Linked DNA regions of Homo sapiens: region 2 is linked to region 1. Evidence: fine-mapped expression QTL. Tissue or cell type: whole blood. Region 1 holds a variant in brackets; the other region holds the start of a gene. All regions are shown on one strand. Distances are between the middles of the regions.

The links. PIP is the estimated chance that this variant, and not a neighbour inherited with it, causes the effect.
Region 2: it holds the start of KBTBD6-DT, and the variant in region 1 is fine-mapped to the expression of KBTBD6-DT in whole blood (TOPMed, PIP above 0.99).

What each region holds. Positions count from the first base shown.
Region 1 is chr13:41,097,166-41,105,274 of GRCh38, forward strand. It overlaps MIR3168 (microRNA 3168), which reads right to left and starts at 3,935; the gene lies at 3,854-3,935. The variant T/A (reference allele first, on the strand shown) is at 3,644.
Region 2 is chr13:41,128,296-41,136,404 of GRCh38, forward strand. KBTBD6-DT (KBTBD6 divergent transcript) reads left to right here and starts at 4,633. Exons shown (of 4, transcript NR_120423.1): 1 at 4,633-4,760. It overlaps KBTBD6 (kelch repeat and BTB domain containing 6), which reads right to left and starts at 4,507. Exons shown (of 1, transcript NM_152903.5): 1 at 1-4,507. The coding sequence starts at 4,216. The coding sequence ends at 2,192. RefSeq lists enhancers at 4,160-4,209, 4,570-4,809.

The DNA of each region.
Region 1 (8,109 bases):
TAACTAGATCTCATTTGTCATTTTTTCCTTTTGTTACAATGATTTTTGTTTTTGTAATGAAATCTTTTCCCATGCCTATATCCTGAATGATGTTGCCTAGATTTTTTTCTAGGGTTTTTATAGTTTTGGGTTTTACATTTAAGTCTTTAATCTGTCGTGAGTTAATTTTTGTATATGGTGTAAGGAAGGGTTCCAGTTTCAATTTTCTGCATATGGCTAGCCAGTTCTCCCAGTACCATTTATTAAATAGGGAATCCTTTCCCATTGCTTGTTTTGGTCAGGATTGTTGAAGATCAGATTGCTGTAGGTGTGTGGTCTTATTTCTGGGTTCTCTATTCTGTTCCATTGACCTGTCTGTTCTTGTACCAGTACCATGCTGCTTTGGTTACTGTAGCCTTGTAGCATAGTTTGAAATCAGGTAGCATAATGCTCCAGCTTTGTTCTTTTTGCTTAGGATTGGCTTGGTTATTCAGGCTTTTTTTTTTTTGGTTCCATATGAATTTTAAAATAGTTTTTTCTAATTCTGTGAAGAATGTCAATGGTAGTTTAATGGGAATAGCATTGAATCTATAAATTACTTGGAGCTTATGGCCATTTTCATATTGATTCTTCCTATCCATGAGCATGGAATTTTTCTCCATTTGTTTTTATTCCCTCTGATTTATCTGAGCAGTGGTTTGTAGTTCTCCTCAAAGAGGTTCTTCACTTCCTTGTTAGCTGTATTCCTAGGTATTTTATTCTTTTTGTAGCAATTGCGAATGGGAGTTCATTCATGATTTGGCTCTCTGCTTGCCTGTTGTTGGCGTGTAGGAATGCTAGTGATTTTTGTACATTAATTTTATATCCTGAGACTTTGTTGAAGTTGTTTAGCAGCTTAAGAAGCTTTTGGGCTGAGACTATGGGGCTTTCTAGATATAAGATCATGTCATCTGCAAACAAAGATAATTTGACTTCCTCTCTTCCTATTTGAATACCCTTTATTTATTCCTCTTGCATGATTGCCCTGGCCATGACTTCTAATACTATGTTGAATAGGAGTGGTAAGAGAGGGCATCCTTGTCTTGTGCTGGTTTTCAAAGGGAATGCTTTCACCTTCTAAAGCCTTTTAAAATAAACTTCCACTCCTGCTCTGAAACTTGCCTGTCTCTTTTTCTGCCTTATGCCTCTCAGTTGAATGCTTTCTTCTGAGGAGGTAAGATTGAGGTTGCTGTAGCCGCATAGGGATTTACTGCTGATAACTCAGATACCAACCAGTAACATTATCGTTAGCTAAAATAGTCCACCTGTTTCCCATGAGGAGTAGTCTTGTATTGTTTACAACAGTCCCAATGCCTGCCACTTAGACAACAGAATACTTTTGAGCCTCATTCAACTTTGGTGCCTGTGCTTTGAGAATGTAGTATTTGAGGTCACATTTACCATCCAAAAATTTCCATACATTTGAGGGACCACATACTCTCTATAGGTGTTTGGATTGTGCCTTAGCACTGAGGATTGCAGGTCACTGATTCATAGCTACCTAAGATTCCACTTGTAAAAACATAGACATGAGCCCTTTTGGGTTAGAGTACATGATTGTTCCCACCTTTGCATTTAGGAGTAAGTTTTCATGTTTGGTCTGGTTTCTTCTATCCATTTGATGAGTACTAGATTATCTTTTAAGGCAACTTCCCATCCTTTTCCCTTGTCTTGGAATAGCATTCCTTTTATGTGGCCTATTTTTTACATGGAATTTTTCTCTAAGGAATGCCTCTCTACATTCCTACATTACATTAGCTATAAACTCACCTTGCCCCAGTATACCTAGCGCAGCTTCAATTTTTCCAATGAGGTTGCATTCTAGTCTTTTGGGTGGCCAATTCTGATGTCTCCAGGAATGCTGTTGCCATAATATGCTAATGGAATTAGTGCAATTTGGATAAATGAAGTTAATCCAGAACTGTTGGGTGTCCCAAACAATTGTTAGGTGGGTGGAGGCCTACCAAAGTGCTGGAATCACAAGTTTTTGTTTTTTTTTTGTTTTTTGCTTTTTTTTTTACACAGAGTCACAAGTTTTGTTTTGTTTTGTTTTCACACAGAGTCCTGCCCTGACGCCCAGGCTGGAGTGCAGTGGCATGATCTTGGCTCACTGCAAACTCCGCCTCCCAAGCTCAAGCAATTCTCTTGCCTCTGCCTCACGAGGAGCTGGGACTATAAGAGTGCACCACAACGCCCAGCTAATTTTTTTGTGTATATATATATATATATACACAAATATATATATACAAACACATGCATATATATACATATATATATATGTATATATATATATTTTTTGTTGTTTTTGAGACGGAGTCTTGCTCTGTCGCCCAGGCTGGAGTGCAGTGGCGCGATCTCGGCACACTACCAGCTCCGTCTCTCAGGTTCACGCCATTCTCCTGTCTCAGCCTCCCGAGTAGCTGGGACTACAGGCGCCTGCCACTACACCCGGCTAATTTTTTTTTTTATATTTTTAGTAGAGACGGGGTTTCACCGTGTTAGCCAGGATGGTCTCGATCTCCTGACCTCGTGATCTGCCCACCTTGGCCTCCCAAAGTGCTGGGATTATAGGCGTGAACCACCGTGCCCAGCCTTTTTTGTATTTTTTTAGTAGAGAAGGGGTTTCACCATGTTGGCCAGGGTGGCCTGGAACCCCTGACATCTAGTGATCCACCCTCCTTGGCCTCCCAAAGTGCTGGGATTACAATCATGAGCCACCACGCCTGGCCATCCAGCCACGTTTTTCTTATATAGGGTTCTTGTCAATGTAAAGACTAAGCTCAGTTGTATCTATGTGCAGACGGGCAGACAGCATGACAAAATTTATTATTTTACTGATTTAATGAAAACTATGCTTGACCTTTTGGTGTGTAAGTACATTAAAGCATAACTATAATTATGTGAAAGGATACATTGTTATGGGGATCAGGACATCTGGACTTTCTGTTGTTGTAGGAGTTTGTCCTTACAGGCATTATCAAGCTGCTTTCTTAATTGTAAACATATCAGGACCATGGGTTGTCACTGGCAAGGAATGTGCCTTGCTAGTTTTAAGATGGGGTTGATTTTTCAATGGTGTCACTGGCTCTCCTAGGCTCCTGCTTCCCTAATAAGAGGACTGCTTGAGGCCAGGAGTTTGATGCCACCCTGGGCAAAATATTGATACCTTGTCACTACAAAAAAAAAATTAGCTAGATGTGGCAGTGTGTGCTTGTGGTCCTGGCTACTGGAAGGCTGAGGCAGGAGGATTGCTTGACCCCAGGTGTTGGAGACTGCAGTGAGCTATGATCGTGCCACTGCACTTCAGCCTCAGAGACAGAATGAGACCCTGTTTCTTTCCCTCTTTTTTTGGCTTCATATTTTGTAATATTTTATTTGAGCACTGAAAAATTCTAGAAGTTACATAAATATAAGTAACTCATTTTACAGATTAAAAATTTGAGATTGAAATATTAGGCAACTTGCATGAGGTCAAAACGTGGCAAGATACAGAACAGAGACTGAACATACGACTCAAGATTTTCTGCATGTTTTACATTGGTGGGCTCAAATTTATTCAAATGACAGAGCCTCTAAGTGTTATGGTGTCCCTTGAGAAACATCTGCTTAATTCACAAGACTACAT[T/A]ATATGTACACAATATGAGAATCATGAGAACATATGTCCATGTCAAAAACATATGTCCATGTCAAAACTGTCTGCTAAAAGAAATATGAACTATTTATAAGTTTTCCATGAATATTCATATAGCAATTAATAATCAATTTACTACAACCCTATGAGACAGATACTAGTATTACCCTCCTTTTGCAGATAAGAAAATGGCATAGAGAAGTTAAGTCACTGGCCCAGGGTCACACAGCAAGAAGTGAAGATGAGCCTCCAACTCAGGCTGTCTGACTGTAGAACTCATGATCTTTAAGCATTATTCCATCATTTTGTCATCAATGAGGAGGAACAAAAACATTTACACATTAGTTCGTATGTGTGTTTCTCTGTGAGAGACCCTATTTCTAAAAAAAAAAAAAAAAGAATTTGTTGAAAGGACGCCACATGCAAAATTGATTGGAAGGGCAAACAACCAGTTCAGAAAATGTGAAAGAACAAATATTTCTCTGGCAGCCAGAACTAAAGCAAAACTCAAGTCAGTGCAAATATCAATAAGTCTGATAACACATTTCTAGGAGGGATGGGTGAAATGGCACCATTATATATTGCTGGTGTAGCATAAATGGGCATAACTTCTCCAGAAGGCACTTCTGTAATACCTTGTCAAAATTCCAAATGCCAAATGTACACACCTTTTGAGAAATTGCTTCTAAAAATATTTTGGCATAGAAGTGAAATAATGTAAGTAGAAGAGTATTCACAACAGCACTGTTTGTAATGGCAAAAGATTATAAGTCACTTAAATGTCCACCAATGGAAACTTAGTGGATTATGATACATTTTTACAATGTCTACTCTGAAGATAAAAAAAAAAGAGTGAGCAGGTCCTTGATGTACTCATATGGGACATGCTACATAGCATTAGAAGCAGTTTATATACGTAAAATATATATGTATTTTACATACGTACAAAAATACACACATGTAAATGAAAAACAAAACTATAAGCCCTCAAATGACTAAATGGACCCCCTCTTAGCCAAGAAGACACCAGAGAAATCTTAAAAATTAGTTCCTGGCCATGACAGGAAAGGAGGTCAGAAAGGCCTCAAGACATCCCCTCCCTTTTGGAATTTAGGCACAACTGACTAGCAATAATGTTACAATAGAAATCAAAAGACTGACAGAACAAACTCTGTGGCAATAAAATACCAAATTATAAACAGGACCTAAAGCCATGCAAGGCAAGGGTTAGGTCACACCTGCAGGCCATCTGTCTTGATAAGTAGGTCATTTTGACCCAGTATATTGAAGCTTGCTCTCACAACCGGACTCTGACACAGCATCCTTATCCCAATTTCAACATTCCTTTCTGCTAACTCCAAGTTTTTAGACAAAGCTTTGTTCCTTTAACCCACTGCAAATTTAAAAAATCTCTGAACCCACTGTGACCTGTAAGCCCCTGCTTCAAGATATCTCATGTTTTCGGGCTAAACTAGTGTATAACCTCCATGTATTGATTTACGGTTTTGGCTGTAACTTTTGCTTCCCTAAAATGTATAAAACAAAGTTACATTCTTGAACTCCTGATCTCAAGTGATCCGCCTCCCTAGGCCTCCCATAGCGCTGGGAGTATAGGCTTGAGCCACCACTCACCGCCATAGACAAAGTTACATTCTGACTGCCTCAGGACCACTTACTCAAGGCTTCTTGGGTTTGTGTTTTCCCTGGGCCTCCATCACTCATACTGGCTCAGAATAAACCTTAAAATACTTCACAGGGCCAGGCATGGTGGATCAAGCCTATGATCCCAGCACTTTGGGAGGCCAAGGTGGGGGAATTGCTTGAGCCCAGGAATTTGAGACCAGCCTAGGCAACATAGTGAGACTCCATCTCTTAAAAAAAATATATATATATATATATTTTAGTGTGTGTGTGTATATATATATAATGTGTATATATATATTATATATATATTTATATATATATATAAAATATATATATACACATTATATATATATTTTATATATATATATATAAATATATATATAATATATATATACACATTATATATATATACACACACACACACACATAAGCCAGGCACGGTGGCTCATGCCTGTAATCCCAGCACTTTGGGAGGCTGAAGTGGGCAGATCACAAGGTCAGAGTTCAAGACCAGCCTGGCCAATATGGTGAAACCCCGTCTCTACTAAAAATATAAAAATAAGCTGGGTGTGGTGGCACATGCCTGTAGTCCCAGCTACTCGGGAGGCCGAGGCAGAAGAATCGCTTGAACCCAGGAGGCAGAGGTTGCAGTGAGCCAAGATCACACCACTGTACTCCAGCCTGGGTGACAGAGTGACACTCTGTCTAAAAAAAAAAAAAAAAAAAAAAAATTAAAAATTAGGCTGGTGTGGTGGTGTGTGTCAGTAGTCCCAGCTACAGGAGGCTGAGGTGGGAGGGTCATGTGAGCCCAGGAGTCTGACAGTCTGAGGCTGCAGTGAGCCATGATCATGCCACTGTACTCCAGCCTGGGTGACAGTGAGATTCTGACTCCCAAAAATAAAATACAATATTTTACAGTTTGTTTGTTTGATTTTAGGTCTGGCTTTATACCCCAGGCTGGAGTGCAGTGGTGCCATCTTGGCTCACTGCAACCTCTGCCTCCTAGGTGCAGGCCATCCTCCCACCTCAGCCTCCCAAGTAGCTGGGACTACAGGCACGTGCCACCATGCCAGGCTAATTTTAGTATTTTTTTGTAGAGATGGGGTTTCTCCATGTTGCCCAGGCTGGTCTTGAACTCATGAGCTCAAGCAATTCGACCATCTCGGCCTCCCAAAGTGCTGGGATTACAGGTGTGAGCCACTGCACCCAGTGGTTTTTTCTGTTGACATATAGTATGCTGCAATTTTAGTAAAACAAAACATGGGCAGAAAAGATATGTGTACTGTCATATATATGCATAAAATAAGCCTGAAAGGATACACACAAAATTGATAACACTGGAAAAGAAAACTAGGAGTATATTCATCAAGGACTTCCAGAGAGACAGAACCAATAAGATGGCTGGATAGATGGATAGGTAGATAGACACACAGATGATTGATGGATGGATAGATAGATAGATAGATAGATAGATAGATAGATAGATAGATGAGTGGAACTGGCTTATTAGGGAACTCCCCTTATTAGGGGAACTGGCTCATGAGATTATGGAGGCTGTGAAGTCCCACTGCAGCTGGAAAGTCTGGGATCCTGGTCATGTGGCTCAGTCCAAGTCTAAATGTCTCAAACCAGGGGAACTGATGGTGTAACTCAACTCTCAGCCTGAGAAGGCAGGGGACTGCCTGCATCAGTCCTGGAGTCCAAAGAGCCTGGAGTTCTGATGTCCAAGGACCAGAGCAGAGCATCTCAGCTTTAGCAGAGAGCGGAAATTGCCCTTCTTCTGCCTTTTTTTCCCATCTGGCTAATTGGACTGTGTCTGCCCACATTGAGGGGAGATCTTCCAATTCAATCAGATTTAGCTGCCAATCTCCTCTGGAAACACCCAGAAATAATGCTTTACCAGTACTCTAGGTATTCCTTAATTCAATTAAGCTGATGCGTAATATTAACTATCATAAGGTGTTTAAGAAACGGGGGACCAGGCACGGTGGCTCACACCTGTAATCCCAGCACTTTGGGAGGCCGAGGCAGGTGGATCACGAGGTCAGGAGTTTGAGACCAGCCTGGCCAGAAACCCCATCTCTACTAAAAATAGAAAAAGTAGCTGGGTGTGATGGTGTGTGCCTGTAGTCCCAGCTACTCAGGAGGCTGAGGCAGAAGAGTCGCTTGAACCAGGGAGGTAGAGGTTGCAGTGAGCTGAGATCACGCCACTGTACTCCAGCCTGGACAACAGAGTGAGACTCCGTCTAAAAAAAAAAAGGAAAAACAGGGATAAGATGGACAGGAGAGACCTTTTACTGTATATTCTTTATATGCTTTGGATTTTGAACCAACTTTAATACCAATTTGAAACATCAGTAAAAAGTCACATTAAAGATTCTTGTTAATTGGCCAGGCATGGTGGTTCACGCCTATAATCCCAGCACTTTGGGAGGCCAAGGTGTGTGGATGATCACTTGAGGTCAGTGGTTCGAGACCAGCCTGGCCAACATGGTGAAACCCCATCTATACTAAAAATACAAAATCTAGTTGGGTGTGGTGGCACATGCCTGTAATCTCAGCTACTAGGGGCGCTGAGGCAGGAGAATCGCTTGAACCTGGGAGGTGTAGGTTGTAGTGAGCTGAGATTGTGCCACTGCACTATAGCCTGGGCAACAGAGTGAGACTCTGTCTCCAAAAAAAAAAAAAAAAAAAAATTATTGTTAATTTGTTAATACACTTCTAATGCAGCTCCAGAACATGGATGTTACTACTGCTGCCACCACCAGAATGAATTCTAAATACCTTGCTTCTTTGTGTCACTTGTTGAGATTCAA
Region 2 (8,109 bases), 31 kb after region 1:
ATAAAGGAAAATGTAGACCATAAGCATCTGGTCATTCATCATGTACATGTATCATGTCAACCATTATATATTAAATCTTCAAGAGGTAAGTACTTCTGTTTTAGTGTGTTTAACAATGTCAGTTTCGTGGGATTTAGTCTCTGTTCCAGGACCTTCTCTTACATTATGGTAACAGAAAAACAAAGACTGGAGCATGGTTTACAGAGAAATACAAAACACATACAAACATCATAATAAAATAGCCATTTATATCACTATTAGAGAAATATTTTAGAGAAAACATACTTTCACTAGTGGCCTCAAATGCCATCATCCACTTATGTTCTTTAACTATCAACTTTGTTTTTCTAAGAGATGGGATCTCGTTCTGTTGCCAAAGCTGGAGTGCTGAGACATGATCATAGCTGCAGTGAGCTATGATTATAGCTGCAGATGATAGCTGCAGCCCCGAACTCCTAGACTCAAGTGATCCTACATTCAAGTGATCCTCCCAAGTAACTGGGACTCAGACTTGGGCCACCATGCCCAGACATATTTTTTATTTTTGTAGAGATGGGGTTTTGCTATGTTGCCCAGGCTGGTCTCAAACTCCTGGGCTGAAGCAATCCTCCCACCTCAGCCCCGAGTTGCTAGGATTACAGGCATGAGCCACTACACCCAGCAACTGTCAACTTGTAATACAAAAATACCTTCAAGCTGATAATCAAGAACATTTAGTGACTTTAAAAAGCTGACAGAATATTTCCATGCTACACAAAACAGTTCTATACACAGCTTTACAGTTTTAAAGTTCTTTGCTGGCACTTGACTTTATAGTTAACACAATGACTACTGATATCAACGAAATACTGTTTTTAGCTTATATATATTTTCAAAATCAGTATTACCTCACAAAACAGTAAAGAAATATCACTTCTGCTGAAGAATCCTCTAAGATGAACACCAAAACTGTACAGCTAAAACATATTGAGAATCATGTAAATGTTTAAGGCAATAGATAAAAATTTATACAATCCAGTGAAATTTATACATGTCCAGCAGAAAAAAAAGGATTATTCCTGATTAAATGAAGCATGTATCAGGTTTAGATCAACAATACAAACCTACAAAGCAAGTTACTTCTTTTTTAAGGTTTTTTGATGATTTGGTGACACAACTAGAATATAACCTTTTAGATGAAAATTGGTGACTTTGCAAATACACATTCTAAATTCCAAAATTAAAACGAAACTTCTTTTCAAACAGTAGAATCCTGGTTTGTTGTTTTTACTGTCAATGAGCTTATAGCTATTCTCTGTATTATTATAAATGAAGTCACCACTCAGTCACCCTAATACACATATGGTTTTTTTTCTTTTTTTTTTTTCCTTTTTTTTTTTTTTTTTTTTTTGAGACGGAGTCTCACTCTGTCATCCAGGCTGGAGTGCAGTGGCCCAGTCTCGGCTCTCTGCAGCCTCTGACTCCCGGGTTTCAGCAATTCTCCTGCCTCAGCCTCCTGGGTAGCTGGGATTACAGGCGCATGCCACCACGCCCAGCTAATTTTTGTATTTTTAGTAGAGACGGGGTTTCACCATGTTGGCCAGGCTGGTCTTGAACTGACCTCAGGTGATCCACCTGCCTCGGCCTCCCAAAGTGCTAGGATTACAGGCGTGAGCCACCGCGCCCAGCCTGCATTTTTTTCTTCATAGAAGAAAACAAAAGTAAAACTTCCCAAATTATGTTTAACTTATAACACATTTTGTAAAGACCCCTTAGGTTAACCATTTTGGAAGTCTACATTGTTCTGAAGAAAAAGATATGCTTTCAAAACACTATCTAGCAATTCCTAATCATTTTTCTATTATAAAAATTAAAATTCAAAAGTTATTGCCACAGTGCTTGTGGCAGTAAACAGAATGTAAAATGTATCAAAAGACTAAATTAGTGTCATGAAACATAAACATACTAAATAATCAAATAAATACTGGACCCTTAGCACAGAAAATTATTAAAAGGTTGATTTGAGTGTTAAAATTTGTAACATTAAATTACCTTCGTATTTCAAACATTACTTTTTCTAAACCAAACCAGAAGTTAATCAACTTTTCCTCTCCTTTAGGAACAAAAAGGATATTTAAGATATTTTCCAAAACAGTAAAAACAACTTAGTGTTTCAATCTAGTTACAACAAACCCTGTTGATCCTGTGCATTTCACTGAGGCGCTACACGCACCCAAAAATCATCATCAGAAAGAGAACTTGAACTTCCTGACTCAGAGTCTGGCTCACTGAATCCACCTAAGTCCCATTCAGTGCTAGACTCACTTGGTATTTCTTCTTCTTCAGTGAGGAAACTCTGACCAGGTTCAAGGCAGGAAGGATAAACACGAGCAGAGAGGCAAAAAAAGTTAGAATCAAACTGCAAGAGGCCTAATGTGGTACCTATATTAATCCATTGGTCTCCCCTAATATCATATTCATACACAGTCACCCGGTTCTTTTTCCACTGTGGGGTGCGAGAGGTGATGAGCAACAATTTTTGGCCATGCTTGATAATTCTGTAGTTGTTGGTCTCTGAGACCAAGGGAATATTATTCATTTGCCTCCATTCTGCCCTAACTGGGTTGTAGACCTTCATGACTGGGATATCACAGATACAATAGATCTCCTCATTGAAGACGCAGGCTTCCTGAAAGTCATTGCGCTTCAGAGAAACGCACTTCAGCCACATATTGTGGCTAGGATCATAACAGAACATGCGCTTACTGTTGAGAGCATAGAGATAGTCTCGAATTACCATTAGGTCAAAGGATAAAAAAGAATGGGGCAGTGGAGCCACCAATGCCCACTGGTTTCTCTTAACATTGTAGCATTCCACTTCCTTCAACTTAACTCCAGTAATAGGGTCTCGCCCCCCCAAAATGTAGATATAGCCATTGAGATATGCCACATCCATGCCCTCACGACACAGCAAGCGATCTGCAAGTTGCTGCCAACTATTCTGAGCTGGTTTATACACCCAGAGGTCTGTCCTGGGCTGAGCAGCTAGATAGATGTCATGGTCAGGAGAGATACAGACAGCTAAAGTGGTGACAGTCCTAGTGTGAGCCAGACAGGTCAAAGGTGACGGCACTTTGTAAAGGTCCCCCGAGTATGGATCACAGCAGAGAAAGGGATCTCTGGGGTGTCCAAAGAAGATCACCATCTCCTTGGCACACATACCCAGTCTCTGGGGTGGATTTTCTGCTGCAGATACAAGAGAGTTGCTGCTGCTACTGCTGCTGCTGCTGTTTGGCACTGGCACCAGAGACTTGTACAACAGGTCACCATAGCGCATCTGCAGGGCCCCTTCAATAACGTCCAGGCAGTACTTCTTCACGATGGGCTTGGTCAGCAGCCCTTCTAAGTAGTCCTGATCTTCTTCAGTGAAGTGCATCCAGCGCACGCACTTGAAGACTTCTGCAGCACTGGGACCCCGCTCTTTGGGAGCAGCCTCCAGCCACTGCACTGCCACATGGCACACTGTCTGCTCACTCTCCACGTCCAGACTATCCAAGCGCAGGACAGCCAGCAGCTGGGCCAGGGTCAGATCTGCTAGAGTCTCCTCCCGAATTGAACCCATGTGGCTGAGTTGCTTGAAGTTCTGAGCTATATAGGACTGGGCCTGGGATCGCAGCTTGCGATGGCCAAAGGCATCTGCAAACTTGAGGATGGCGGTGCAGTTGGTCAGGTCAAGACGTCGGGCTAAGAAGGAGGCACAGGCTTCCCGCACATATTCCAGCTGTAGCATGTCGGAGGCCGCGTACAGGCGCTCCACGTTGGCCTCACTGAGAGACACACGACCCGTGTAGCAGTAGTCGACCAACACCTCGAAGGACTCGGCGTCCACATCGTGCATGGTCACGCTGGCCTGCTGGCTCTCGTACATGCCACCTGTGAACATGCTCTTGAAGTAGGGACATGCCGCGGCCAGCACATTGCGGTTGCAGGGGAACAGGCGACCCGTGCCAGGCCCGCTGCCAGGCGTCACCACCTCGATGGTCACATCACACAGCAGCCGCGCATCGTAGAAGGACTTGAGCTGTGCCAGCAGGGCTGCAGAATGGGCCGTGTCCTTTAATTCCTCTGGACCCGTGAAAAAGGCCGAAACTGTGGGTTTGTGAATCTTCTTGGGCCGCTTCCCACCACGGGGACTGGCTAGGCGGCGAGAGCGCGGGGCGTCTTCCCGGGACTGCATGGTGGAGATGGCGACGGGCGCTGATGGCGAGAAACGCTGCAGGACCCGGCTCTGGCTCCTCCTCAACCTTCCCTCGCTGACGCTAAGATAGCAGCGTCTCCGAAGAGACAGCAGCACGAGCCCATTTACTGAATTCAACCCTACCCCGCAGAACCGCCTCCCGTTATCGTTTAGACAGTGGCTGACTCACCCTCTCTCACTCCCGCGTCCTTTCTCCGCGTCTGCTCGCCTTCACAGGACCCGCTGGCTTGGAGCCGCAGAAGCCGCTACTGCAGCGTGGGCGACAATGCTAGGCGCCCAGGAGAACTACCGCTCCCAGGTTGCCTTTCGCGCCCCGAGGGCTGCTGGGACTCTCGGACTCCCGGGCCGAGACCGAGGGAAAGAATCCGCTTTGCATGTCGGGAGTAGTAGTTTGTGTAATATCGCGATCCTTCTCTGGTGTTCCTTGTTTTAGCTGACGACACTCGAGAGCGCCAATTTTCCTAGATTCGATTTTGTGGTTTGGAACTGTGGTTTTGGAATCCAGAGTAGTCGCCTCGTTCTAGTATGTATTGTTTGACTTGTCTCTTTGAACTGTTTCTTCTTTTGTAAGACGTGAACAGTAGTATTTCATAGGATTGTGTGAAGATTACATGAGTTGGTTATAGGACGCTGTTAATAAATATTTGTTGGTTTGTAGAATAATTACTCAGTTCTTAGAATTATAAAGGTTCGATAAGTTTTCTTCCAGCCTTTATTAAAAAAAAAAAAAGGAAGCACCACTAATTTGAAATTATGAGCCTGTAGGAAAACAAAAAACCCCCCAAAACAGAAAACCTTGCAAGTTCCAGCAGAGATCCCTTTTTAGGGGCGTGTGTGTGTGTGTGTGTAAATTAGATTTTATTTTTAGGTTTACGGAAAAATTGAGCAGCAGGGACAGGGAACTTCCATATATCTCTCCCCACTTCACAGTTCCCTTATTATTAACATCTTGTATTAGTGTATGTATCCATTAGAAGTGATTTTTTTTTTTTTTTTTTTTTTACTCACTATGCCTCTCCCTGGTACCAAAAGATAACTCAGGGTTTGTAGGATTGGTTGGCTATCGCTGGAATTAGATCCCTGGCTTTTTCACAATTGCCTGTCCTTATTTGCCATGACTAAAAGGAGACCACCTCCAGTCACCTGACTTTGAGACTTTCCTTCCATATCTGCATTTCAAAACCTGAAGTCCTCTGTAGCCACTTCTCCCACTTGGTCTCTCCAATATTCAGTACCCCTTTCCCTTTTTTACACAAAAGAAGAGACATGCTTTAGGGGGTCCTCACCCCAAAACACAATGGAAGCCAGAGGCCTGGTTGGTAATTTAGCATCCTTTTAGACCCAGTGGCTCAAGCATTTCTCCCCTTGCTTGTATGAAGTTGCCTCTCCATCAGAGCTGACTTTATTTCTAGTCATTCACTCAACCTTTACTTACCCCGTGCAGTTCAGACATTAGAAGTCACTGAGAACACCTAACACGTTTCCGCTTCGGACTCACCTCCTGTGAAACCCTGCCACTGTCTTCCTCTCTCATCACTGTCCACCGTAGTCAAAACAATCAAGCCACTCTTCTTCCCATTCCCTCTGAAGGACAACCTTGTGACTGAATCACCGTCACACAGTCATTCACATTTCCTCACTCTGACATCACCAGAACTCCTCTCAGAGACCTTGATATCACCTTTGTAGATGGTTCTTACCTCAGGAGTACAAATGGGGAATTTTAAGCAGGATACACTATTGCAGATTTTCAACAGCCTATTAAGTTGAAATCTCCACTTAAGTTAACATGGCCCAAATCATTGAATTCTTAAGCACTCACCCAAACTTGCATGTTAGCACAAGATAAGGGAACTAACATTTATAGAGACAGCCAGTTTACTTTTGGAATTGCACGTTATTTTGGTATGCTATGGAAAGAAAGAGGTTTATGACAACTGAGGAGTACCACTCAGAACCCAACTCACTAACTTATTTAAGTCTTTTTTTTTTTTTTTTGAGATGGAGTCTCGCTCTTGTCACCCAGGCTGGAGTTGCAGTGGCGCGGTCTTGGCTCACTGCAACCTCCGCCTCCCGGGTTCAAGCGATTCTCCTGCCTCAGCCTCCTGAGTAGCTAGGATTACAGACACCCACCACCATGACCGGCTAATTTTTTTTTTTTTTTTTTTACTTTTAGTTGAGATGGGGTTTCGCCACGTTGGCCAGGCTGGTCTCAAAATCCTGACCTCAGGTAATCCACCCGCCTCGGCCTCCCAAAGTGCTGGGATTACAAGCGTGAGCCACCGCGCCCAGCCCCCCTGTTTAAGTCCTTACAGCTATCCAGAAATTAGCCATTCTCAAAAATCAAAGCTCACACTAGTGGCTGGACTAACAAAGCTAAAGGAAACTTAACTGGCTGAAAATATGCTAAGGTTGCTGCTTCCCAAGAAAACACCTCCTGAATCACGTGTATACTTCTCCTTGCTCAACCTACTCTAAAGACAGAAACTCTTAAGAAACTTAAGATATAACAGCTGCTAGCACCTGAGGCTGAAAAAGCAAAAAAGCAACAAGCTGGATGTTTTTTCTACTCAGATGGGCTTTGGAGACACCTAGACATCATTGATTTCTCTTGGTCCCTCACCCAAAATTTATTCTGCAGCCTCCATGAGATTACACATTATGGCAAAGAAAATCTTTCTCCGCAAATATTGTTGGGGATGCCCTAATACTGAGCAGTTAACTTCAACTTGCCCCATCTGCCAGAAACACAATCCTAGTCAACATGTAAAGTGGGACAAGCATGAGAGTCAACTCTCTCTAGTCCTTGTTTTCATTGGAAAATATATCAACTCTCAAAGTCTTATGGGTACAAATATGTTTTAACCATAGTTGGCATGTTTTCAGCATGGTTAAAAGCTTTTCTCTGTAAACAAGCTACTATCACCACTGAAGTTAACCTGATACCAGAAAGAATTTTCCCCTCCTAGGGATCTCTGTTTTTTTTAATAACAGTGGAGGAACTCACTTCAGTAGTAAGGTTATTCAGGATCTTCAACAAGTACTTCCAATGTTACAAAAACTGCAGTCTCCTTACCAGTCCTCTGGAAAATGAAACAAGCAGGCCAGTGGTACCGTTATATTCAAACTAGCCAAACTCTTTAAGGAACTCAACCTGCCCAGAGTCTCATGCCTAATGGCCCTTGACTCTTCTATTATCCCCAATTTCTCAGCATGTACTAAATGAAACTTAATTCTTAACATGATTAATGAGTCTCTTGAAATCTCCAAACTCAATGACTCCACTTTTTCAGGATCAAGTGTAGGAAAAAATGTAGGAGCACTTTTATCCCTAATAATAACCATTTTCTCTTCCACCACTTCCCAACCAGCCTTACAAACTGCGTTCAGTTCCACACAAAGACTCTGCTCTTCTGAGGGATCTACCCAGTTGTTAATCCCAGTAATTGTTAATAATTACTATACCTCAGACCCCACCTGTTTCCCCATAGGATACCACTTTTCATGCCTTCCCCAAGGGCATTTGGACTGATTGTCTGGGACTTCAAAATATTTAAAGCTGCTATCCCACCTGTCAATGGTGTGTCCTTCTGGAATTACCTCCAAATTGAGGCAACTACAGGGAATTGGGGAAAACCTCCCAGGGATATCAATGATTCTCTTTTCATATGCACCATGAGGGCCCTTGACACCCACTATGGCATTAATACAGTTAAAAAGGATAGTTCAAAAAAAAAAGAAAAGGTAGTTCAAGCCTCTCCTTAACCTTTGTAGAAGAAAATTATACCACTTTGGCCCTAGAAGTACAGAAAATAAGTTTAAACGCACAGGTCCAAATTGTTATGGCCAATCCTACAACTTTCAACTTCCTT